6 separate regions of the Homo sapiens genome follow, and all the other regions are linked to region 1. The links come from fine-mapping of genetic effects on gene expression. A gene starts in region 1. Each other region holds a variant in brackets. All regions are shown on one strand. Distances are from middle to middle. Region 1 holds the start of N4BP2 (NEDD4 binding protein 2). Region 2 overlaps KLB (klotho beta). Region 3 overlaps PDS5A (PDS5 cohesin associated factor A). Region 4 overlaps N4BP2 (NEDD4 binding protein 2). Region 5 overlaps N4BP2 (NEDD4 binding protein 2). Region 6 overlaps N4BP2 (NEDD4 binding protein 2).

The links. PIP is the estimated chance that this variant, and not a neighbour inherited with it, causes the effect. A credible set is the group of variants that fine-mapping cannot tell apart.
Region 2: its variant is the best candidate, but not a certain one, in a credible set for the expression of N4BP2 in whole blood (INTERVAL, PIP 0.61).
Region 3: its variant is the best candidate, but not a certain one, in a credible set for the expression of N4BP2 in stomach (GTEx, PIP 0.58).
Region 4: its variant is the best candidate, but not a certain one, in a credible set for the expression of N4BP2 in subcutaneous fat (GTEx, PIP 0.72).
Region 5: its variant is the best candidate, but not a certain one, in a credible set for the expression of N4BP2 in CD4 T cells (Kasela 2017, PIP 0.52).
Region 6: its variant is the best candidate, but not a certain one, in a credible set for the expression of N4BP2 in monocytes (Fairfax 2014, PIP 0.60).

The regions. Positions count from the first base shown.
Region 1 is chr4:40,054,848-40,058,936 of GRCh38, forward strand. N4BP2 (NEDD4 binding protein 2) reads left to right here and starts at 2,003. Exons shown (of 18, transcript NM_018177.6): 1 at 2,003-2,183. It also overlaps the pseudogene LOC344967. RefSeq lists silencers at 1,215-1,424, 1,765-2,224, 2,275-2,624 and enhancers at 2,815-2,864, 2,965-3,064.
Region 2 is chr4:39,420,898-39,424,986 of GRCh38, forward strand. The region is part of intron 1 of KLB (klotho beta); the gene reads left to right. Among named protein-coding and RNA genes, the nearest start is that of MIR5591, 11 kb to the left of the region's middle. The variant G/A (reference allele first, on the strand shown) is at 2,355.
Region 3 is chr4:39,871,088-39,875,176 of GRCh38, forward strand. It overlaps PDS5A (PDS5 cohesin associated factor A), which reads right to left. Exons shown (of 33, transcript NM_001100399.2): 20 at 3,202-3,325; 21 at 1,899-2,057. Among named protein-coding and RNA genes, the nearest start is that of PDS5A, 100 kb to the right of the region's middle. The variant T/TA (reference allele first, on the strand shown) is at 2,520.
Region 4 is chr4:40,092,167-40,096,255 of GRCh38, forward strand. The region is part of intron 2 of N4BP2 (NEDD4 binding protein 2); the gene reads left to right. Among named protein-coding and RNA genes, the nearest start is that of N4BP2, 37 kb to the left of the region's middle. The variant C/T (reference allele first, on the strand shown) is at 1,505.
Region 5 is chr4:40,080,116-40,084,204 of GRCh38, forward strand. All of the region lies in intron 2 of N4BP2 (NEDD4 binding protein 2), which reads left to right. It also overlaps the pseudogene LOC124900183. Among named protein-coding and RNA genes, the nearest start is that of N4BP2, 25 kb to the left of the region's middle. The variant C/CAAAA (reference allele first, on the strand shown) is at 2,160.
Region 6 is chr4:40,145,938-40,150,026 of GRCh38, forward strand. All of the region lies in intron 16 of N4BP2 (NEDD4 binding protein 2), which reads left to right. Among named protein-coding and RNA genes, the nearest start is that of RHOH, 49 kb to the right of the region's middle. RefSeq lists an enhancer at 1,654-2,435. The variant A/G (reference allele first, on the strand shown) is at 1,599.

The DNA.
Region 1 (4,089 bases):
AGAACTTTATGGTGTTGATGTTCTTCTTATTGCCATAGTAAACAAACTTTAAAAACATTCAGCTTGGGTGTTGTCTTTGTGGCTTGAAATATATTTTCCAATGTTAAGAAGAGTTTATTTCTTATTGTTCTGACTTAAGATTTGATGAATCCTTAACAGATGTTCAAAGGAAAATAATTTAAATGCTAGTTTTTATTATCATGGTGAACATATTTCAAAAACAAAATATTAATTTCCTCGACATCTTTCAAGTTTATAATTACTAGGGTTCTTTCATTTCTAAAGTGGCATATATTACAGTTTTTAGTCTCTTATAATGGTTGTTTAGAGGCAGAGTTAATGTTAGCTTCTCAGCAACAGCTATTTATCTCTTGAGATTCTGGGTTATTACAATTTTTTGTTTTTGAAATTTAATAAAAGCATTAAGGGGTTTTTGTATAGTGATTTTTTTTTAAGGATGAACATGAAGTCTGTGATTTAACACTGGGACTCGAGACCTCTAAATACAAAATTCATACAAAAGGAAAAATTCCCCTATTTTTCTATATGGATGGTTTCATCAGAAAATTTATCTTCTTGAGTTCTCTCCTTATATATTACTAGTTTCTTGAAAAAGCACTACAACGTTCTCATTGTGAATAAGTGTTCCAGTTAGACCTAAACGACAAAAACCACTTGCACTTGCCCCAAATTTACACTCTGTTTAAAGCAACTGCCATAACAACCAACAATGTATCTTCGATGCAAAGGGACACTTTGTCATGAGGTTATTTCGCTTCTCTATTCTGGGAAAAACCACTGCAAGTGGAATGAAAAGTAACCGCAAAGGGAGGGGACGGAGGAAGTAAAAAACAGGCAAAACCACCACCACTACCATCACCACCACCACCACCAACCAGAAAGCAAAGGTGAAAAATTTGCGTACCCTGAAAACACTAAACATTTCACATCAGAACCCAGAACAAATAAACCAGGGAAAGCAGAGTTGAGAGAAAAAAAATGGTGCAGGCTTGGGGACGGACTCATACTACAGCGGTCGCAAGAGGGAAGAGCACGTCTTTGCTTTTTCTTGGCATCCGAAAACTCAAGCTCGAACTGGGGGCAAAGGCCAGCGGCTGCGGTTCCACCGGCTAAGGCGCACACATTCCCCGAGCTCAGACCGCACGCTGGCAGGGCCGATGGGGCTGGGCAGCCTCCCTCCACCCCGTGGCAGTCGCCTACCCCTTTGTCTCCCCGTGGGGCTCCGAGGCCGCGCGCCCGGAAGCCCCCCGCGGGAGGGCCGCGCGCGAGAAGGCGGGTTCCCGTGCCCGCCGCAGCGGCCACGGCCCTAGTCAGGCAATGCCGAGGCCGGTCGCTCGCCTCGCCGTCCCTCCCAACTTGCAGCCTGGACCCCGCGCGCGTCAGGGCTCGTCCCAGCTCTGCTTTCCTTTCTCCCCTCACCTCGCGAGGCCGACCTTGTGTTTGTTTTGTTTTTTGGGGCTCGGGAGAGTGCCGAGGGCTAGAAACAGCTGTGGTTTACCGCGCCGCTTATTTTGGCAAAAATTCCGGGCCTGTTGCAATGTTCCCCAGCGCCAAACAGCTCCCGCCTTCCCCCCAAGCAGAACCCGACACTCGAAGAAGGGCTTGCTCCTCCAGGGACCCCCTGATAAGAAAAGTGGGGACCACGGCCCGCTCTCGGGCGAGACTTGGGGGGTGGGCGACCGGAAGCAGCCGAACCGGCCGGGCAGGGCTTGCTCTCCAACGGGAGAGCGGGAGCGGGAGAGGTGGGAGCGCCCGCGGGCTCAAGTCCCCCGGGCCGCCGCGCCGAGGCGGAGCTCGGGGACGAAGCAGAGGTCGTGGCGGACAGCCGGCGGGCTTGGGGGGGGGCGGTGGGCGGCGATCCACCTGGGCGACGTGGCAGCCATTGCCGGCGCCTCGAGACCCCTCCCCACCCGGCCGCCCACCCGCCCTCTCGCGGCGGGCTTCTGCGCGGCTGCTCTTCCCCGGCCGGACGGAGAGCGGCAGTGTCTCCCCGCCGGGCGCGCTCGCCGTGTCTCCCCCGCGGCCGCAGCTGCTTGCTAGCCTTGCGCGGCGCGGGAGAGCGCAGTGGCGCCGGCGGGAAAGGGCTGCGGACCTGCGGCGCCGCGTTGTGCGTTCGACGACGCGGCACCGGCTTCGACGCCCTCTGCCCGCTCCAGAAGCAGGTAAAGGCGGCGGGTGGGAGGCAGGGAGGCGGGTCCAAGGTGAGGGCCCTGGAGGTTAGGGGTCCCGGGGCTCCGAGCCGAAGCGGAGGGCCTGAAGCAGCGGCGGGCGGCGCGGCGAATGAACCCCCAAGCCCTGAATGTGGGGCCCGGCGCGGGCCGCCTCCGATCTGACCCGCGGGCCCGGCTGCCCGGACGGAAGGGAAGTGAGGCGTCGGCGAGAGGCGGGCCCTGGCGCTCAGCCCGAGGCCGGGCGAAGGCGGGGGCCGCGGCCGCTTCCTTGGCCTCCGAGTGCCTGGCGGGCCTCCAGGCCCCAGACACACCCCTCTCGACCCCCCGAGGTTTCCTCCCAGATCTGTTCCCGCCGGGACCTGACCTTGCGCCCCTCCAGGCGCCTTAGGTGTTTGCCAGGCGGAGCCTTCTGGGAACTTCAGGCCACCTTCCTGAGCACATAGTCCTAGCAGAGCCGTTTATTTACTCAGTTCAAGTCCAGACACACAGCCACTCACACGTTCGGATTTTGGAGACTGCGGGGAGACTTTCCCCTCCCCGGCATTTGTGTGTCTTTGGCCCTCGTCCCGCCTCCCCTGCCCCCATCTGCAACTTTGTCCCTCAATGGGACCCTTCTAGAGCCCCTCTCTCATCGGGACTCTCTCTAAGCCGTCCGTTTGGAAATTCATCCTCAATAGAGTGAGTCATCTTAGCGGGGGCACAGTTTATCTCTCATGCGCTTTTGGTTAAAATAGTTTTTTTTTTCCCTCCGAAAGAGAGCTAGAGTAATAGAATGTAGATGACAGGTCAGTGTCAGTGTTGGCTTCAAAGGCTCTTCCTTTCGGCGGCAGTCTTTGTAACTAGGATCTGATATTTGTGGCACGGACAGGTTTGTACACATTCTCGCCATGCAGTGGTTGTAATGTCTCCATGGCACAGTTCTGGCTTGAAGGCAGGATTGGCTGCTTTTTCTACTCGACATCTTTGAGCCAATCAGCAAGGGCTGCTTGCCTGGAGACTGGTTAACTCAGTAAAGGTGGCCATTGGTTGAGCTCCTAGAAGAAAATCCTGGAGATGAACCTAGCCTCTCAGAAAACAATGACTGATTTGCAGCTGTATTAAAAAAATGTTTTCTTTTAATCCCAACATCAGCCTTTTCACTCCGTTTTTATTACTTCCAGTGTTTTTCTTTCAAACACCAGCTGTCTTTTGTAACTCGTTTTAACTCTCATCCTTTAATTTTAACTAAAAGACGCGCTTTAGGAAATGTAAACATCGTGTGTTCTGTGTTTTGATAAACGTGGTTCCATCTGCCTTTCTAACATTGTTTACTGCTAAAGGTCAGAAATAAACAGTTTTGAGTTTCGCTGCCAGGACCTTTTATTATTTAAGTGCCGTGCTAGGATGGGGGGTAGGAGCGAGGGGCTGTAGTGGTGGACATGGTGGGAAGAATAGGAAATAAATGGCTGCTCTTTTGCAAGGAGGCTACAATTTAGTTAATGAAAAAAGACTAACCTGTAAAACAATAAAGAATAAAGCAGTTGAAATCAGCACGCAGTACGTACGAATGCCAGTTTGTGTACTTGTTGACTTTAGTTAATTTGAAGGGGAGATAGAAGTACTGTATTTCATAGAAAAAGTGGGCTTAAGTTATGGTAGAGGCATGTTTTTTCCTTCATTAAAGTATATTAAAGTAGGCATAGTATCTTGTATGTACACAGTAGAAGCTAAATATTATCACTAGTTGCATGTTTTTTTTTTAGTATTTATTTTAAATCTAAATACTGTTACATAGTTGCATCTTATTTATTTATTTTTTTGAGACAAGGTCTGGCCGTATCGCCAAGGCTGGAGTGCAGTGGCACTATCTCAGCTCACTGCAACGTCTGCCTCCTGGGCTCAAGCCATCCTCCCACCT
Region 2 (4,089 bases), 630 kb before region 1:
TTCTCTTCTTTCCTTACTCCCTAACCACACACCACGGGAAGTAACCACTGCCAGCAATTTGTTCAATGTTCAAATTTTTTTCTATGTATATATGTACACATAACATATACATACATATAGTGATTTTTGAATCGTATTATTACATTTAGTTTCAGTTATTATTTCTCAATAATCAAAATGTAAAAGCATACTGTTTTTATTTCACTCATTTCCATATTTTTTTCTCCTGTTAGACACCATAGATCATCTAAAGGCAGGGGCTACCTTGTTTTTCTAAATGTCTATTACAGTGCCTTGTATTTGTTAAATAAATGTTTGTAGACTTGAATTTAAATAAATAAAGTAAATGGATGAAGAGTGACAAAAGGGATAAAATAATAGCTGGAGGTTGAAGGAAACTCAGACAAATAAAAGTGACTTATCTAAACATGTTTTTGTTGATGTATATAACTTTGTGTAATGAACAGGATGAAACGTAAGGTAATGCTGATGAATTCTCCATTTGATTGGGTTCTGAGGGGCACCCCAGGTGGTGAAGTGGGATGCAGGCATAATCAAAACTATGACTCCGACCAGGCACAGTGGCTCATGTCTGTAATCCCAACACTTTAGGAGGCCAAGGTGGGCGGATCACTTGAGGTCGGGAGTTCAAGACCAGCCTGGCCAACACGGCAAGACCCCGTCTCTACTAAAAATACAAAAAATAATTTAGCTGGGCATAGTAGCCCGTGCTTATAACTCCAGCTACTCGAGAGACTGACGCAGGAGAATTGCTTGAATCTGGGAGGTAGAGGTTGCTGTGAGCAGAGATCCTGCCATTGCACTCCAGCCTGGGCAACAGAGCAACACTCCGTCAAAAAAAAAAAAAAGACAAGGTCTCACTCTGTCACCCAGACTGGAGCTCAGTGGTGCGATCAGCTCACCCTAACCTCCGCCTCCCAGGCTCAAGCAATTCTCCTGCCTCAGCCTCCCAAGTAGCTGGGATAACAGGCATGTGCCACCACTGCCCTGCTAATTTTTGTATTTTTAGTAGAGGCAGGGTTTCACCATGTTGGCCAGGCTGATCTCGAACTCCTGACCTCAAATGATCCACCCCCTTCGGCCTCCCAAAGTGTTGGAATTACAGGCATGAGCCACCACGCCCGGCCGCCTCTGAGTGTTTCTTAGAGGCTTTCTCAGTCTACTGTCCCTTGGTTTTGTGTCATGTCTGTTGCATACCCCTTGCATTTTCACAGCCTGTTCAATCACCTTCGGGTCTACGGTGTAAAAGTGTATTTCAAAGGCACATAATTTAATTTGCACGATATCCTGGAATGACAGTGAACTAGGAAGGTGAAGGACTTAGTTCTATTTCTAGCTTTACCACTAACTGATATCTTGGGCAGGTCATTTATGTGGGAGAGAGGGAGGTTCAGCTTCTTCATCTATAATAGAAACTTTTAAAAATTGAACAAAATGACCTCTGAGGTCCACACTCTACCTCTAACTGGCAGGCAAGAGCACATAGGGCGATATAGCCTGGGCCTGATTCACCTTGTGCAAGTTACCTAACCTCTCCACCCCCTGGTTTCCTCTCCTCTAAGTGGGAATGATCACAGTACCTACCTCGCAGAATTTCAGTGAGGATTAGGTGAGAGAGTATACACACAACACCTGGAACAGTGTCCGGCACATTTGGTACTAGATATGTGTTAGCTCTTATTAATATTTATATTATTCAATTTCTATGGCTCTTATTTCCATTACTGTTCTGTTACATTCAGTTATGAAAATCACTCATCTCTAAGACCCTTTTAATTATTACTTGATTGAATGCCATGCTGTTCTAAATGCTATGCAGACAAGGATCTCTGTCCTTTCAGTCTAACTTTTTTTTTTTTTTGAGACAGAGTCTTGCTCTGTCACCCACACTGGAGTGCAGTGGTGTTATCTTGGTTCACTGCAGCCTCCACCTCCTGGGTTCAAGTGATTCTCCTGCCTCAGCCTCCCGAGTAGAGTAGCTGGGACTACAGGCGCATGCCACAATGCCTGGCTAATTTTTGTATTCTTAGTAGAGACAGGGTTTCACCATGTTGGCCAGGCTGGTCTCAAACTCCTGACCTCAAGTGATCCACCCATCTCAGCCTTCCAAAGTGCTGGGATTACAGGCGTGAGCCACCGCTCCCGGCCTCAGTCTAACATTGACAATGGTGTAAAGATCACCATTCACAGGGGAAGACAATCCAGCACAGGGGTGGTCCCTGAGGGATTCACTTAGCTTTTGACATCAGTGAGGAAAATAATCCAACGCTAACGTTACTGGTTTTAGGAGAGAGGTGAATCGAGAATTACATATAAATGTTACACATAGAAGC[G/A]CTGTGCTAGGCACTTGGACAACTAATGGTTTTCTGAACACCCCAAATTTGCTGACAGGTCCTCCATGACCTCTCTAGATGATACTGAATTCCAAAGGTATATAGATATTTTTCTCTCAACATGCAATTGTGGAATGTAGTACCCTCATTCGAGGACTATTTAGCTCTTTTAATAACCAAGTACAGCAGAGAGAAAATGTAATTTTAAAACAATATGTCAAATGGTCTTTCCCGAATAGCTTCAAAATTTAGAACTGGCAGGACATACAGAAAGCAGGATGGTGTAATAAAGTGGGTTCAAATCCCAGCTCTGCAACTGTAAACTTCAATTTCTTTTCTAAAATGGGAAAAATAAGACTTGTCTTGCAGAAGCTGTATTATCAATAAGGTACGTCAAGTAACCAACAAACTAGCTGATCCATAATAGGCATTCATTCAACAAATATTCTAGGCCAGGCCCTCCCCTGGGCATCTGTGTGGACAACTGTGAACACAATAAATATAGTCAGTCTCTGCCCTCAAGAAGCTAATAGACCTGGTGTGGAGCCACACTGCACGAGCCTGAGACTTTTACAATAGTGGGGAAGGATCTTTTTTTTAAAATAAAAAAAATTTTAAAGGGAGACAAAAATCAGTACAAAAGTAAATATCTGGCCAGGTACAGTAGCTCAGGCACTTTGGGAGGCCAAGGCAGGAGGATTGCTTGAGTTTGAGACCAGCCTGGGCAACATAGTGAGACCCTGTCTCTGCAAAAATAAATAAATGAGCATTTATTTAGAATGAGAAAAACATCACAATAAATTATGATAGTTATTTTTTGTTTTTGTTTTTGTTTTTGAGACAGGTCTCATTCTGTCACCCAAGCTGGAGTGCAGTGGCACAATCACGGCTCATTGCAGCCTCAACCTCCGTGGGCTCAGGTGATCCTCCCACCTCAGCCTCCTGAGTAGCTGGGATTACAGGTGCACACCACCATACCCAGCTAATTTTTGTATTTTTTGTAGAGACGAGGTTTTGCCATGTTGGCCAGGCCGGTCTCGAACTCCTGGGCTCAAGTGATCCACCAGCCTTGGCTTCCCAAAGTGCTGGGATTACAGACATGAGCTACCACGCCTAGCACAATAAATTACTATAGCCTTAGAGTCCTTTTTTTCTAAAGTCTCTTTAGGGAATTTGCAAGAACTGCTCACCTAGAAATGCTTCCAATTGCAACTAGGCTCCCTGACCCACCCAGGGCATTTCTAGGGACGTAGGTAAGCAAGGCGACCTGAAGCTAAAGCTTCATTAGGCTCACAGTAAATCTGGCTTTGCTGCAGGCTCTACACGTGATGGCCCTTGTTTTTATTATTATAATAATTTGTAATCTCCATGGTGGTTTCTTTTTCTTTTTCTTTTTTTGAGATGGAGCTTCGCACTGTTGCCCAGGCTGGAGTGCAGTGGCGCTATCTCGGCTCACTGCAACCTTTGCATCCCGGGTTCAAGCGATTCTGTTTCAGCCTCCCTGGTAGCTGGGACTACAGGCATGTGCCACCACGCCTGGCTAATTTTTGTATTTTTAATAGAGATGGGGTTTCACCATGTTGGCCAGGCTGTTCTCGAATTCCTGACCTCAAGTGATCCACCCGCCTCGGCCTCCCAAAGTGCTGGGATTACAGGTGAGAGCTACTGTGCCAGGCCTCCATGGTGGTTTATATGTTGACTATCTGTATTCCCAAATCCTGAGGAAAGGCTTCAA
Region 3 (4,089 bases), 180 kb before region 1:
GATACCTAGAATAGGTAGTCATAGAGTCAGAAGGTAGAACAGAGGGCAATGGAGAGTTGTTGCTTAATGGGTACAGAGTTTCTGTATGGGGTGATAAAAAATTCTGGAGATGGATGGGGTGGTGATGATTAGGTAACAATGTGGCTATTATGTTAGTGAATTTTAACACTTAAAAATAGCAAATTTGATACTATGTATAGTTTATCACCATAAAAAAAGACCGTCTGAAAACACAATCTATCAACAATCATCATTTAAGAGGTATCTTAAATTTCACATTTGTTGAAAACCACATCTATCGAAAGTAAAAATAACAGCAAGGATATGTAAGGGTAGAAAATGAGACTTAGGCCACGTTCTTCTCTTCTTGTCTGCTGCGTTCAAAAGTGGAAGGTGGTACAAATACAGAAGGGGCACTAGCAGGTGTCTTTAAGTTCCTGATACTGAGGCCTCAAGATTACCGAAACATGTGAGAGTTAGGAACTTTGGATAAGCTGGATTTGTGGCAAACTAACACTTAAATGAAAGTCATCCACAATGATCCAGCATATCTGTGTCTTTATTCAATAACAACAGATTTAATTTAGATCCATTTGGTAAAGCAGTGATTCTTTTATTTATTTATTTATTTTTTTGAGACAGTCTTGCTCTTGTCGCCTAGGCTGGAGTGCAATGGTGCAATCTTGGCTCACTGCAACCTCTGCCTCCCGGGTTCAAGCGATTCTCCTGCCTCAGCCTCCCGAATAGCTGGGATTACAGGCACTCGCCACCAAGCCCGGCTAATTTTTTTGTATTTTTAGTAGAGACAGGGTTTCACCATGTTGGCTAGGCTGGTCTTGAACTCCTGACCTCAGGTGATCCACCCACCTCGGCCCCTCAAAGTGCTAGGATTACAGGCGTGAGCCACCAAGCCCTGCCAGTAGTGACTCTTAATCAAGGTGTGTTTCCGAAATCATTTGGGGAGTCTTTTCAATCTATACATTCCAACCCAGAGGTAATAAATCAGAGCACACAGACATCAATAAATCTAGTGCCAAAAGTACAGTGTATTATCTTAAAAATTAGTCAAATTCAAGTCCACTTACTTTTTTTTTTTTTTTTTTTTTGAGACAGAGTTTCGCTCTTGTTGTCCAGGCTGGAGTGCAACTGTGCAATCATGGCTCACTGCAACCTCTGCCTTCTGGGTTCAAGTGATTCTCCTGCCTCAGCCTCCTGAGTAGCTAGGATTACAGCTGCCGTCACCACACCCGGCTAATCCACTTACATTTCTAACAATGTTTGATAAAACAAATTTTAGCCCGGCATGGTGGCTCACACCTGTAATCCCAGCACTTGGAGAGGCCAAGGCGGACGGATCACCTGAGGTCAGGAGTTCAATATAAGCCTGGCCAACATAGCGAAACCCCGTCTCTACTAAAAACACAAAAATTAGCCAGGCGTGGTGACAGGCACCTGTAATCCCAGCTACTTGGGAGGCTGAGGAATGAGAGGAGGCCAAGGTTGCAGTGAGCCGAGATCGTGCCACTGCATTCCAGCCTGAGGCACAGAGCGAGACTCTTGTCTTCAAAACAAAAAACAAAAATAACCCAATTCTAACATTCCAGAAAATGATAAACTGTCTTTTGAGGGTCAGGAAAATAGCTTTTACTTATATGTAACTTTCATGATTCACCAATCCCGTGTTCTAATTTTTGTTTCTTAAGTGTGAAATTCTAGTAGTAATAGCTACCATGAAATAAGGAAGTAGTTTCGAATTTAAATAAATAAAAAATAAGTAGAACCAATATAGAATAATTTAAAAGAAAAAGAGAATTACACAGAAACAGAAGTGTTTCTGTGATGAAGATGTAAACAGCCTTAATCTCATGATTCTCAATTTAATTAAATGAGAAACTTACCCTGTCATTCATTAGCAGATCTTTCACAATAAAATTTGCTACTACAGATTTCATTGGGGAAGCAAACTGATCTGGTGCTAACATAGAAATGTGGCCCAATGAAACTAATGGAGTTATAAGTTGTTCTGGCACATCAGCATTCAGACTCCTACTGAGTGGCTATAAAAATAAAACAGACAAAATTACCAATTTGTTTGATAAATATCTAGACACTCTACTGAAACAGTACATTTTCCTGAGTCCTCCTGAATTTACCATGCCCAAACCAATCTTCTCTAATACGATCATAACTAACTTCAACCATGTTAAGACACCTGGTTCTTAATTCACCTACTAAAATTTAGCAAGATTGAAAGAATGTAGAAAAAAGATAAAAGAAAAAATAAAATCCAACAAAAAGAAGTTTAAAGAAAAACATTTTTGCTTCATCAAATCAGCATTATTTTTGACTAATCTACAACAATGGATTTGCTATACCAGTGGTTTTCTTACCCTGTGGAAGCATTTTAAATGACCTTAAATCATACAAAGTAAGAGTTCACTGGGTTTTGGTCACACTATCTCCAATTTATGATAATAGGAATACATTTCTAATAGTAAAATGAGGCCAGTCATTATATG[T/TA]AAAAAAAAGGGAAACAGGATTAATTTTCAGGTAGGGTTCTTAGGTACTTTAAACTGGATTGTTCAAAATTATCTACTAATACTTTCCGAGGATAAATGCACCACTGAACCAATAAGGCTAAAATTAAGTAAAATGTTCTAACATAAACACATAAGGCTAGGTGTGGTGGCTCATGTGTGTAATCCTAGCACTTTGAAAGACTGAAGTGGGTGGATCGCTTCAGTCCAGGAGTTTGAGACCAGCCTGGGCAACATGGCAAAACCCCATCTCTATAAAAAAATCCAAAAATTAGCTAGGCATGGTGGTGGTGCCTGTACTCTCAGCTACTTGGGAGGCTGAGGCAGAAGGACTGCTTGAACCTAGGAATTCGGGGCTGCAGTGAGCAGAGATTGCATCACTGTACTCCAGCACTGGTGAGAAAGTGAAACTTTATCTCAAAAACAAACTAAAAAACAAAAACCACAAAACCCTTCAATATGAGGTGTTTGAACATATAATCTGATCTACAGGCTGGGAATGCAGTACCACATAAAATAGACAGAATCCTTGCTCACAAGGAATTTATAGTCTAAGGTAGGACTTCATATAAACAGCTTTAAAAAATCTAGCTTCCATCTTCATCAAACTATAGAGCTTAAAAAATAAAGACCAATATAAACACAACCTATATATTAGATATACCTCAAAAATCTGTGCAAGCTGGACTTCTTTATTTGTGAATATGGCGTGTATACAGTGCACAGCCTGTTTTGCTTGGTGTGGAGTACCCCTCTTTGCTTTTTGATGTAAAATGGGAATTAAGGTCCTGCAAAAAATAATATAGTTGTTTTTTTTTCTTAAACCCATAAACCAACAAGTATTCCTTTGGTTGACTTCCACTTCCCCTATATGGATGGATGCTAGTAGAGAAGGCTCTCTTAAAAATTATCTGATCTAAAGAAAGTTGTAAAAAAGCTCCATCTCTGCCCCCAAGTATAAACCAAGAAATACAATGCCTCAAGAAAAAGCCTACTTCAGGAGACAATTTTTATTTTAAAGTTACCTCACAAATATGCAAAATAACAAGCAACCCTTAATTCATAATCTAAAGCTTACCCCATGACATATTTTTGCATTTACCTTCTAAGTAGCAATATTGCTAATTTTTCAATTCCCTTTTATAATCCCCTTCAGTTATTTCAAAGTAGCTACAGAAAGAGAGTAGCAAAAGGCCAAGTTGTATTAAACAGCTGAAATAATACTAGTGAAAGAAAGTATGCAAAGATACAGCTACATATATATCAGTAGAATGGCAATAAAAATATCTAACTATTATGTGCCAGGCACCATTCTAGGTATTTCCGCATGGATTAATTCAACTAATGTTCACATCCACCCAAAGAAGACTATCATAGTCATTACACAGATGAGAAAATTAAAGCACAAAGATGTTATTTAAGCCTCCTAAGATGACGAAGCTAGGAAACTGGGAGTTGGGATTTGAAAATTAGCATTTCTTTCAAAATCCACATACTTAACCTCTACACTGACAATGAAGAGTAAACTAAAACAGTCTTCTTTTAGGATGAC
Region 4 (4,089 bases), 37 kb after region 1:
TCATAAAATGGATTGGAAGTGCTTTCTTATTTTCTGGAAGAGATTATGTAGGATTAGTATTATTTTTTCCTAAAAATGTTTGTTAGAATTTTCCATTGAAGCTATTTGGCCCTGGAAATTTTTTTTTTTGAGTTTTAAAATTATGAATTAAATTTCTTTATAAATTATAGTGATTTTATCTTTGTCTTATTGGATGAGTTTTGATTCTTTGTGGTTTTTGAGACATTGGTCCATTTCATATAAATTGTCAAACTTTTGTGTGTTCATAGTTTACTTTATTAGCCTTTTGATATCTGCAAGGTCTATAGTAATATCCCTTTTTCATTCCTGATGTTGGTAATTTCTGTCTTCTTTTTTCTTTGTCAGTCTTGCTAGTCTTTCAGTTTTATAGATCATTTGGGTAAACCAGCAATTTATTTCATTGAATTTTCTCATTATTTTCTGTTTCCAATGTTTGTTATCTGCTATTTATTATTTCCTTTTTTTTTTTTTTTTGAGACAGAGTCTTGCTCTGTTGCCCAGGCTGGAGTGCAGTGACACAATCTCAGCTCACTGCAGCCTCCACCTACTGGGTTCAAACGATTCTCTTGTCTCAGCCTCCCAAGTAGCTGGGACTACTGGCGTGCACCACCATGCCCAGCTAATTTTTGTATTTTTAGTAGAGACGGGGTTTCACCGTATTGGGCAGACTGGTCTCGAACTCCTGACCTCAGGTGATCCACCCACCTCAGCCTCCCAAAGTGCTGGGATTACAGGCATGAGCCACCGTGCCCGGCCTGCTCTTTTTTTTTTTAAAGATGGAGTCTTGCTTTTGTCACCCAGGCTGGAATGCAATGGCGCAGTTTCAGTTCACTGCAACCTCTGCCTCCTGGGTTCAAACGATTCTCCTGCCTCAGTCTCCGGAGCAGCTAGGATTACAGGCGCCTGCCACCATGGCCAGCTAATTTTTGTATTTTTAGTAGAGAAAGGGTTTCACCATGTTGGCTAGGCTGGTCTTGAACTCCTGACCTCAGGTGATCCACCCGCCTCAGCCTCCCAAAGTGCTGGGATTACAGGCATGAGCCACCATGCCTGGCCCCGGCCTACTCTTTATTATTTTCTTCTTTCTGCTGGGTTTGAGTTTATTTGCCCTTCGTTTTCTGGGTTCTTATGGTGGGGGCTTAGATTATTCATTTGAGACTTCTTTTCTAATGTATGCATTTAGTGCTATAGATTTTCCTGTAATCACTGCTTTAGCCATGTTCTACAATTTTTTTTTGAGACAGAGTCTTGCCGTGTCACCCAGGCTGGAGTGCAGTGGCTCGATCTTAGCTCACTGCAACCTTTGCTTCCCGGGTTGAAGTGATTCTCCTGCCTCAGCCTCCTGAGTAGCTGGGATTATAGGTGTGTGCCACCTTGCGTGGCTAATTTTTGTATTTGTATTATTTATTTATTTATTATTATTATTTATTTATTTATTTACTTTTGGAGACAGAGTTTTGCTCTTGTCGCCCAGGCTGGAGTG[C/T]AATGGCACTGTCTTGGCTCACTGTAACCTCTGCTTCCTGGGTTCAAACGATTCTCCTGCTTCTGTTTCTTCAGTGCGCGTGCCAGCGCTCCTGGCTAATTTTTGTATTAGTAGAGACGGGGTTTCACCATGTTGGCCAGGCTGGTCTTGAACTCCTGACCTCAGGCGATCCACCCACCTCGGCCTCCCAAAGTGCTGCAATTACAGGTGTGAGCCACCGCGCCCAGCTAATTTTTGTACTTTTAGTAGAGATGGGGTTTTACCATATTGCCCAGGATGGTCTTGATCTCCTGAGCTCAGAGTGGTCTGCCCACCTCAGCCTCCCAGGGTGCTGGGATTACAATCCAGGTAGGCGTGAGCCACCACACCTGGCCTACAAATTTTGATATGGTATATTTTCATTGGCATTCAATTTATTATATTTTAAAAATTTTTTCGAGACTTCATCATTGACCCATGGATTATTTAGATGTATATTGCTTGGAAATTTTTATGTTACTGATTTCTAGTTTGATTCCATTGTGGTTGGAAAACATACCTGTGTGATATCAATTGTTTTAAATTTGTTGTGGTTTGGTTTTAGCTTAGGATATGATCTATCTTGGTATGTGTTCTGTTAATACTTGAAAAGAGTGTGTATTTTGCTGTTGTTGGGTGGAGTGTTCTGTAAGTGTTGATTAGATCCTTAATTATTGGTGTTGTTGAGTTCTATATATTTGCTGATTTACTGTCTAGTTTATTCTGTCTGTTGTTGATAGAGTGGTGTTGAAGTCTCCACCTATAATTGTGAATTTGTCTATTTCTCCTTTCAGTTTTAGCTTCACTTATTTTGTAGCTCTTTTTAGTGCATATACATTTAGGGTTGCTATATCTTTTTTATTTTTATTTATTTATTTATTTTTGAGATGGAGTTTCGCTCTTGTTGCCCAGGCTGGAGTGCAATGGTGTGATCTCAGCTCAATGCAACCTCTGCCTCATGGGTTCAAGCAATTCTGCCTTAGCCTCTCGAGTAGCTGGGATTACAGGCATGCACCATCTTGCCTGGCTAATTTTGTATTTTTAGTGGAGATGGGGTTTCTCCATGTTGGTCAGGCTGGTCTCAAACTCCTGACTTTAGGTGATCTGCCCACCTCGACCTCCCAAAACGCTGGGATTACAGGTGTGAGCCACCGCGAGTGCAGTGGCGTGATCTTGGCTCACTGCACCTCTGTCTCCTGGGTTCAAGCGATTCTCCTGCCTTAGCCTCTCGAGTAGCCGGGACTACAGGTTAGTTCTTTTTGTATTTTTAGTAGAGACAGAATTTTGCCATTTTGGCCAGGTTGGTCTCAAACTCCTCACCTTAAGTGATCCTCCTGCCCATTGTCCAACGTGCTGGGATTACAGTCGCGAGCCCCTGAGTCTGGCCAGGGTTACTATATCTTTTTTTTTTTGAGATGGAGTTTTGCTCTTGTTGCCCAGGCTGGAGTGTAATGGCGCTATCTTGGCTCACTGCAACCTCTGCCTCCCAGGTTCAAGCAATTCTGCTTCAGCCTCCTGAGTAGCTGGGATTACAGGCCCATGCCACCACGCCTGGCTAATTTTTGTATTTTAGTAGAGACAGAATTTCACCATTGTTGGCCAGGCCCGTCTCAAACTCCTGACCTCAGGTGATCCACCCACCTTGGCCTCCCAAAGTGCTGGGATTACAGGCGTGAGCCATAACGCCCAGCCCGCTATATCTTTTTGATGGCCTGATCCTTTATCATTACACAGTGCCTTTCTTTGTCTGTGATAATTTTCTTTGCTCTGAATTCTGCTTATGTCTGATATTAATATATAAATGTACTTTTATTTAATTGTAATTAATTTAAATTTAAATAGGAACATATGGCTGGTGGCTGCCATATTGACAATGCAGTTCTGGAAGGTGGAGAGAGCTATGATACAAATTTAATTAAAAGGTAAATTTTATAACACAATAGAAGATGATAAGGGCAATGGATAGTTAGCAGGAAAGGGGAGATTGGGGCAGAGGGAGCAGGGTATATGATTTTCAGTTGGATAATCAATAGAGAAATCATTGAATGTGACACTTGAACAAAAATTTGAAGGAGTACAGGAGTTAGCCGTGCAGATATCTTGAGGAAGAGTATATCAAGGGCTAGCAGAGAGATACGTCATTGTAAGAACTTTAGTTTTTTCTCTGAGTGATATGGAGAACATATAGGGGTTTAGATCAGACCCTTTTTACATCGTATAAAGCTCAGTCTGGCTGGTATATTGAAAATAGACTATAGGGGGACAAAGTTGCAAACAGGGAGAACAGGTAGGAGGTTGGAATATGGTTGAAAGATGACAGGTGTCAGACCCAATGATTAGAGCAGATTTTGGGAAATATATTAGACATTTAGTTTTGGATATGTTAAGTTTGAAATGTTTATTAGATATATTCAAGCAGAGAAAACAAGTAGACTGCCTGTAGTTCTATTCCAGGTATGAGTCCCTGCCCTTGTGGAGCTTACACTTTATTGGAATATGGGTGGTAAATACAATACGTATGTAAAACATATGCTATGTAAGAAAACAATAAGTCCTATGGAGAAAAT
Region 5 (4,089 bases), 25 kb after region 1:
CAGGTATGTATATGAAGATGCTATACAAGGTTGTTTAAACTAATGTATTAATAAGGAGGCTCTCATGAAAAAAGGAAGATACGTAAGATTAGATGATAAAATAGTTAAACCTGAGCATCACTTACAGTAGAATATGTGGGATTGAGATAAACTGGATTATAAGTAGAACAGGTGATTGGGAGATAGTGTGAGCTGTATATATATATATATACACACACACATATATATGTATATATATAATTTTTTTTTTTTGAGGTGGAGTCTTGCTCTGTTGCCAGGCTGGAGTGCAGTGGCACCATCTCGGTCACTGCAACCACTGTCTTCTAGGTTCAAGCAATTCCCCTGCCTCTGTCTGGGACTACAGGTACGTGCCACCACGCCCAGCTAATTTTTTGTATTTTAGTAAAGACAGGGTTTCACCATGTTGGCCAGGCTGGTCTCGATCTCCTGATCTAGTGACCTGCCCGCCTCGGCCTCCCAAAGTGCTGGGATTACAGGCGTGAACCACCGTGCCTGGCCTATATATGTTTTTATACATCAGAATTTTCTTATTTATTTATTTATTTGTTGAGATGGAATCTCGCCCGGCTGGAGTGCAGTGGCGTGATCTTGGCTCACTGCAAGCTCCGCCTCCTGGGTTCACGCCATTCTGCTGCCTCAGCCTCCCACGTAGCTGGGACTACAGGCGCCTGCCACCACGCCTGGCTAATTTTTTTTTTTTTTTGTATTATTAGTAGAGATGGGGTTTCACTGTTTTAGCCAGGATGGTCTCGATCTCCTGATCTCGTGATCCGCCCACCTCAGCCTCCCAAAGTGCTGGGATTACAGGCATGAGCCACTGCGCCTGGCAAGAATTTTCTTTAATACACTAAACATTATTTGGACACTAAAACTGCCTATATGTTTAGATCTTTTTACATACAAATAGACACAGTGAAAAAAAGGGAATGGAAGGGATATATAGCTTGCAAACTGGAGGAAGTACAGAGGGAAGTCCATGATTCACCTTTAATTTATAATAATGATTTTTTCCTGATTATGGAAAAAATGCATTTCTTACGGATTATGTGGAAAATGCGAAAGTAGCATATAAAAAATATATTAAAAAAATCACCTATGATTCTATTATCCAGAGATTTCTTTTCCAGTCTAATTTAAGTCAGTCCCTTTTGTGTGTCTGGGTAGATTATATTTAGTTGAGTGTCTTGCTTTCATTTCTAACATTCTCTTTTAAAAAACTACAGTGAAGGCCGGGCGAGGTGGCTCACACCTGAAATCCCAGCACTTTGGGAGGCCGAGGTGGGCGGATTACCTGAGGTCAGGAGTTCAAGACCAATCTGACCAACATGGTAAAACCCTGTCTCTACTAAATATACAAAAATTAATGGGGTGTGGTGCCGCATGCCTGTAATCCCAGCTACTAGGGAGGCTGAGGCAGGAGGATTGCTTGAACGCGGGAGCTGGAGGTTGTAGTGAGCCAAGATTGTGCCATTGCACTCCAGCCTGGGTGACAGTGTGAGACTGTCTCAAAAATAAAAAACAAAAACAAAAAACTACAGTTAAATATTATCCAAATCAGGCTGGGCACAGTGGCTCATGCCTTTAATCCCAGCATTTTGGGAGGCTGAGACGGGTGGATTACCTGAGGTCAGGAGTTTGAGACCAGCCTGGCCAATGTGGTGAAACCCCATCGCTACTAAAAAATACAAAAATAAGGTTGGGTGCTGTGGCTCACGCCTGTAATCCCAGCACTTTGAGAGGCCAAGGTGGGTGGATCACCTGAGATCAGGTGTTTGAGACCAGCCTGACCAACATGGAGAAACCCCATCTCTACTAAAAATACAAAATTAGCCGGGTGTGGTGGCGCATGCCTGTAATCCCAGCTATTCGGGAGGCTGAGACAGGAGACTCGCTTGAATCTGGGAGGCAGAGGTTGCAGTGAGCCAAGGTTGCGCCATTGCACTCTAGCTTGGGCAACGAGCGAAACTCCATCTCAAAAAAAATAACAAAATAAATTGGGTGTGGTAGCGAGCGCCTGTAGTCCCAGCAAACTGGGAGACTAAGGCAGGGGAATTGCTTGAACCCAAGAGGTGGAGGCTGCAGTGAGCCGAGATGGCGCCACTGCACTCCAGCCTGGGCGACAGAGCGAGACCCTGTCT[C/CAAAA]AAAAAAAAAAAAAAAAAAAAATTATTCAAAACATAGTCTTTTTAAATGGCTGTCTAAATTTCCATTATGTCAATCTAAAGAGGTGTTGTATTCAATAATCTAACAATCCTGGGTTCAGCTTAATAATAGAAACAACCCAATTTACAAATAGGCAAAAGAATCCAAACAGACATTTATTCAAAAAAGTATATAAATGCCAATAAGAACATGTAAAGATGGTCAACAACATTTGTCCTTAGGAAAATGCAAATCAAAACCACAGCTAGATACCACTAGGATTATGTGGAAGAGTTAGTTCCTTGAGCCCAGGACTTCGAGACCAGCGTGTGCAACAGAGTGAGACTCTGTCTCCAAAATAAAAAACAACCAAAAAGCCTAAGCAAACAAACCAACCCAACACCTCCTGGTGCTTAACCACAGGCTGTATTCTTTTTTTTTTTTTTGAGACAGAGTCTTGCTTTGTCCCCCAGGCTGGAGTGCAGTGGCTCAATCTCGGCTGACTGCAAGCTCTGCCGCCCGGGTTCACGCCATTCTCCTGCCTCAGCCTCCCGAGTAGCTGGGACTACAGGCACCTGCCAGCATGCCCGGCTAATTTTTTGTATTTTTAGTAGAGACGGGGTTTCACCGTTTTAGCCAGGATGGTCTCGATCTCCTGACCTCGTGATCTGCCTGCCTCAGCCTCCCAAAGTGCTGGGATTACAAGTGTGAGCCACCGCACCCGGCCGGGCTGTATTCTTACACTGACTGTATAGAAAGAGGAGATAGAGTAAACCTACCCCGTATACTTCAGCCCACGCCCTGTGCCTGTTCTGTATTATGAAGCGGGGTTGGGGGGCGGTGCAGACATAGAAAAAGGAAAAAACAAAAGGAAAAAAAGAAAAACAAACCCAAAACAAAACAATTGACAGTAACAGTGTTGGTGAGGATTAGAGAAATCAGAGCCCTTACACATTGCTGGTGGAAGCTGAAATTGGTGCAGCTGCTTTGGAAAACCGTTTGGCAGTTCCTCAAAAGGTTAAACATAGAGTTACCGTATGAACTAGCAATTCCACTCTTAGATATATACTTGAGAGATATGAAAACATGTCCACAGCAAACTCTTATACAAATGTTCATAGCAACATTATTCACCATAGCCAAAAAGTAGAAACAACCCAAATGTCCATCACTTGATGCATATGTACATAAAATGTGTTATATCCGTACCATGCAATATTTTCTAGCAGTATCGGTGAAGTACCAATACAGGCTACAACATGGATGAACCTGGAAAACATGCCAAGCGAAAGGAGCCAGTCACAAAAGGCCATGTTTTAGATTATACAATTCTCTTCATATAAATGCCTAGAATAGGTAAACCTATAGAGACAAAAGTAGATTCGTGGTTGCCAGGGGATAGGAGAGGGAGGAATGGGAATGGTTACTAATGGGTGGTGGGGTTTCTTCTTGAGTTAATAGAAATGTTCTGGAATTAGTGGTGATGGTTGTACAACTCTGAATATACTGGAAACCACTGAATTGTACACTTTTGAAATGGTGAATTTTATGGTTTACATATTATATTTTAATAAAGCTGGTATAAGTAGAAATTTGGGAGCTCCCACACTTAAAACCAATCCACGACGCTACCTTTGATACAGATGGTAGTGGTGAAGGTGATGATTTTAAATGTATTTTGGATTTATTATTCATTCATTCATTCAGACGGGGTCTCACTCTGTCACCCAGGCTGGAGTTGCAGTGGTGTGATCTCTGCTCACTGCAACCTCCCCCTCCTGGGTTCTCCTGCCTCAGCCTCCTGAGTAGCTGGGATTACAGGCATGCGCCACCACTCCCAACTAATTTTTGAACTTTTAGTAGAGACGGGGTTTCGGCATGTTGCCCAGGCTGGTCTTGAACCCCTGACCTCAGGTAATCCACCTGCCTTGG
Region 6 (4,089 bases), 91 kb after region 1:
GATCACCTGAGGTCTGGAGTTCGAGACCAGCCTGGCCAACATGGTGAAACCCCGTCTCTACTAAAAATACAAAAATTAGCCAGGCATGGTGGCATGCACCTGTAATCCCAGCCACTTGGGAGGCTGAGGCAGGGAGAATTACTTGAACCCTGGAGGCGGAGGTTGCAGTGAGCCAAGATCACGCCACTGCCCTCCAGCCTGGGTGACAGAGCGAGACTCTTTCTCAAAAATAAATAAATAAATAAATAAATAAAATAAAATAAAATAAGAAAATACAAGTTGTATTTAGGATAAATTCTAAAATCCCTACATAATATCTCTTGCTTACCTCTCCAGTCTCACCCTGTGTTTTTTTCTCCTTTTCTGTATATTTAACTACACTGTCAGTCTTGACCCCCATACTAGTTAGGCCCCCTGTTAATAACTTCTCACAGTACTCCTACCTCTCACAGTGTTTATAAAAAGCTTATTGTATAATTGGTTATTAAATACCTGTCTTTTTGGCCAAGAATTGAGCCAGTGATGATCATGTTTTTTCTTCAACACTCAAAAAAGTTTTTGAATAAATGACTAAATAATGGTAGTTATTACTCTTATTTTTTTGACAAATAAGATTGTTTATATTGAAAGTATGCAATGTGATGATTTGATAAATGTACACATTGTAAAGTGATTACCACAATGAAGTACTTTAGCACATACATCACCTATTGTTACCATTTTGTGTGTGGGGGATGAGAACACCTATGACTTACTCTCATAGCAAATTTCAAGTATATGATATAGTGCTATTAAATATTATTACCATGCTACACATTAGCTCAGCAGAATGTATTCTTTTTAAGCTTGTACCCTTTGACCAGCATTTCATTTCCTCCTCTCTATTCTGGCCCCTGGCAACTACCATTCTATTATGTTTCTATGTGTTTGGCTTTTTTTTTTTTTTTTTTTTTCCCCAGGTAATGTTTTTATTTTTATTTTTTTATTTTTTTTATTGATCATTCTTGGGTGTTTCTCGCAGAGGGGGATTTGGCAGGGTCATAGGACAATAGTGGAGGGAAGGTCAGCAGATAAACAAGTGAACAAAGGTCTCTGGTTTTCCTAGGCAGAGGACCCTGCGGCCTTCCGCAGTGTTTGTGTCCCTGGGTACTTGAGATTAGGGATTGGTGATGACTCTTAACGAGCATGCTGCCTTCAAGCATCTGTTTAACAAAGCACATCTTGCACCGCCCTTAATCCATTTAACCCTGAGTGGACACAGCACATGTTTCAGAGAGCACAGGGTTGGGGGTAAGGTCATAGATCAACAGGATCCCAAGGCAGAAGAATTTTTCTTAGTACAGAACAAAATGAAAAGTCTCCCACGTCTACTTCTTTCTACACAGACACAGCGACCATCCGATTTCTCAATCTTTTCCCCCACCTTTTCCCCTTTTCTATTCCACAAAACCGCCATTGTCATCATGGCACGTTCTCAATGAGCTGTTGGGTACACCTCCCAGACGGGGTGGTGGCCGGGCAGAGGGGCTCCTCACTTCCCAGAAGGGGCGGCCGGGCAGAGGCGCCCCCCACCTCCCGGACGGGGCGGCTGGCCGGGC[A/G]GAGGCGCCCCCCACCTCCCTCCCGGACATGGCGGCTGGCCGGGTGGGGGCTGACCCCCCCACCTCCCTCCCGGACGGGGCGGCTGGCCGGGCGGGGGCTGACCCCCCACCTCCCTCCCAGACGGGGCGGCTGGCCGGGTGGGGGCTGACCCCCCACCTCCCTCCCAGACGGGGCGGCTGGCCCTCACTTCCCAGACGGGGTGGCTGCCGGGCGGAGGGGCTTCTCACTTCTCAGATGGGGCGGCTGCTGGGCGGAGGGGCTCCTCACTTCTCAGACGGGGCAGCCAGGCAGAGACGCTCCTCACCTCCCAGACGGGGTCGCGGCCAGGCAGAGGCGCTCCTCACATCCCAGACGGGGCGGCGGGGCAGAGGCGCTCCCCACATTTCAGACGATGGGCGGCCGGGCAGAGACGCTCCTCACTTCCTAGATGGGATGGCAGCCGGGAAGAGGCGCTCCTCACTTCCCAGACTGGGCAGCCAGGCAGAGGGGCTCCTCACATCCCAGACGGGGTGGCGGCCGGGCAGAGGCTGCAATCTCCGGCACTTTGGGAGGCCAGGGCAGGCGGCTGGGAGGTGGAGGTTGTAGCGAGCCGAGATCACGCCACTGCATTCCAGCCTGGGCACCAATGAGCACTGAGTGAACGAGACTCCGTCTGCAATCCCGGCACCTCGGGAGGCCGAGGCTGGCAGATCACTCGCGGTTAGGAGCTGGAGAGCAGCCTGGCCAATACAGCGAAACCCTGTCTCCACCAAAAAAATAAGAAAACCAGTCACGCATGGCGGCGCGCGCCTGCAATCGCAGGCACTGGGCAGGCGGAGGCAGGAGAATCAGGCAGGGAGGTTGCAGTGAGCCGAGATGGCAGCAGTACAGTCCAGCTTCGGCTCGGCATCAGAGGGAGACCGTGGAAAGAGAGGGAGAGGGAGACTGTGGGGAGAGGGAGAGGGGGAGGGGGAGGGGGAGAGGGAGTTCGGCTTTTTTAGGTTCCACATGTAAGTGAGATCATACAGGATTTGTCTTTCTGTGTCTGGCTTATTTCACTTAGTATAATGCCCTCCAGCCACATCTGTATTGTTGCAAATGGCAGGATTTTCCCCTTTTAAAAAATTTTTAATTAAATTTTTATTTTTATTTAAAAGAAATAGGAGGTCTCAGTGTGTTGCTTAGACTGGTCTCGAACTTCTGGGCTCAAGTGATCCTCCCACCTTGGCCTTCCAAAGTGCTGAGATTGCAGATGTGAGCCACCATGCCTGGCCTGAGCCACTGTGCCTGGTCCCCTTTTTATTGTTGAATAATATTCCATTGTGTCTATATCACATTTTTTTATCAATTTATCCATCGATGGACAATTAGGTTGTTTCACCCAGCCTGGATGACAGAGTGAGACTCTCTAAGAAAAAAAAAATTGAAAAATCGAAAAACAGAAAAATGAAATGGAAAGTAATCAGTATTGTTAAGGATGTGGATAAATTGGAGCCCTCATATATTGCTAGTGTAGCCACTGTGAAAAATTTCACTAGTTCTTTGAAAGGTTAAACATATAATTAACCGTATGACCCAGTAATTCTGCCCCTAACTATGTACCCAAGAGAAATAAAAACACAATATGTCTTTACGGAAACTTGCATATGAATGTCTGCAACAGCCAAAAGGTGGTGGTAACCTAAAAGTTCATTAACTGATGAATAGAGAAACAAAATGTGGTAAATCTATACAATGAAATTTAATTTAGCCATGTAGAGAAATGGCGGACCTTGTAAACATTATTCTTTGTGAAAGATGAAGGCAGATAAAAAGCCATATGTTGTATGATTTCATTTTTACCAAATGTTCTGAGTATGTAAATCTAGAGAGACAAAAATTTGATTAGTGGTTGCTGGGACTGGAATGGCAAGAATATGAGCAGTGACTGCTATGAGGCACAGAATTTCTTTGTGAAATGATGGAATGTTCTGGAATTAGTGGTGGTGGTTGCACAACATGATGAATATGCTAAAAACCGCTTAATTGCATATTTTAAAATGGTTAGTTTTATGTTAATTTTATCTCAATTAAAAAAATTGTAAGAAGAGAAAAAGAGGCCAGGCTCAGTGGCTCATGCCTGTAATCCCAGCACTTTGGGAGGCCGAGGCTGGCGGATCACGAGGTCAGGAGATCAAGACCATCCTGGCTAACACAGTGAAACCCCGTCTCTACTAAAAATACAAAAAAAAATTAGCTGGGCATGGTGGCGGGCACCTGTAGTCCCAGCTACTTGGGAGGCTGAGGCAGGAGAATGGTGTGAACCAGGGAGGCGAAGCTTGCAATGAGCCGAGATCGAGCCACTGCACTCCAGCCTGGGTGACAGAGCGAGACTCCATCTCAAAAAGAAAAAAAAAAAAAAAAGAAAGAAAAGAAAAAAGAGCTAAGTAATTTGCCCAAGGTAATACTTGGTCAAGATCCAAGATGCAGATCTTTTCTGGAAGCCAAGGCCCATCTCTAGTGCATGCTGCC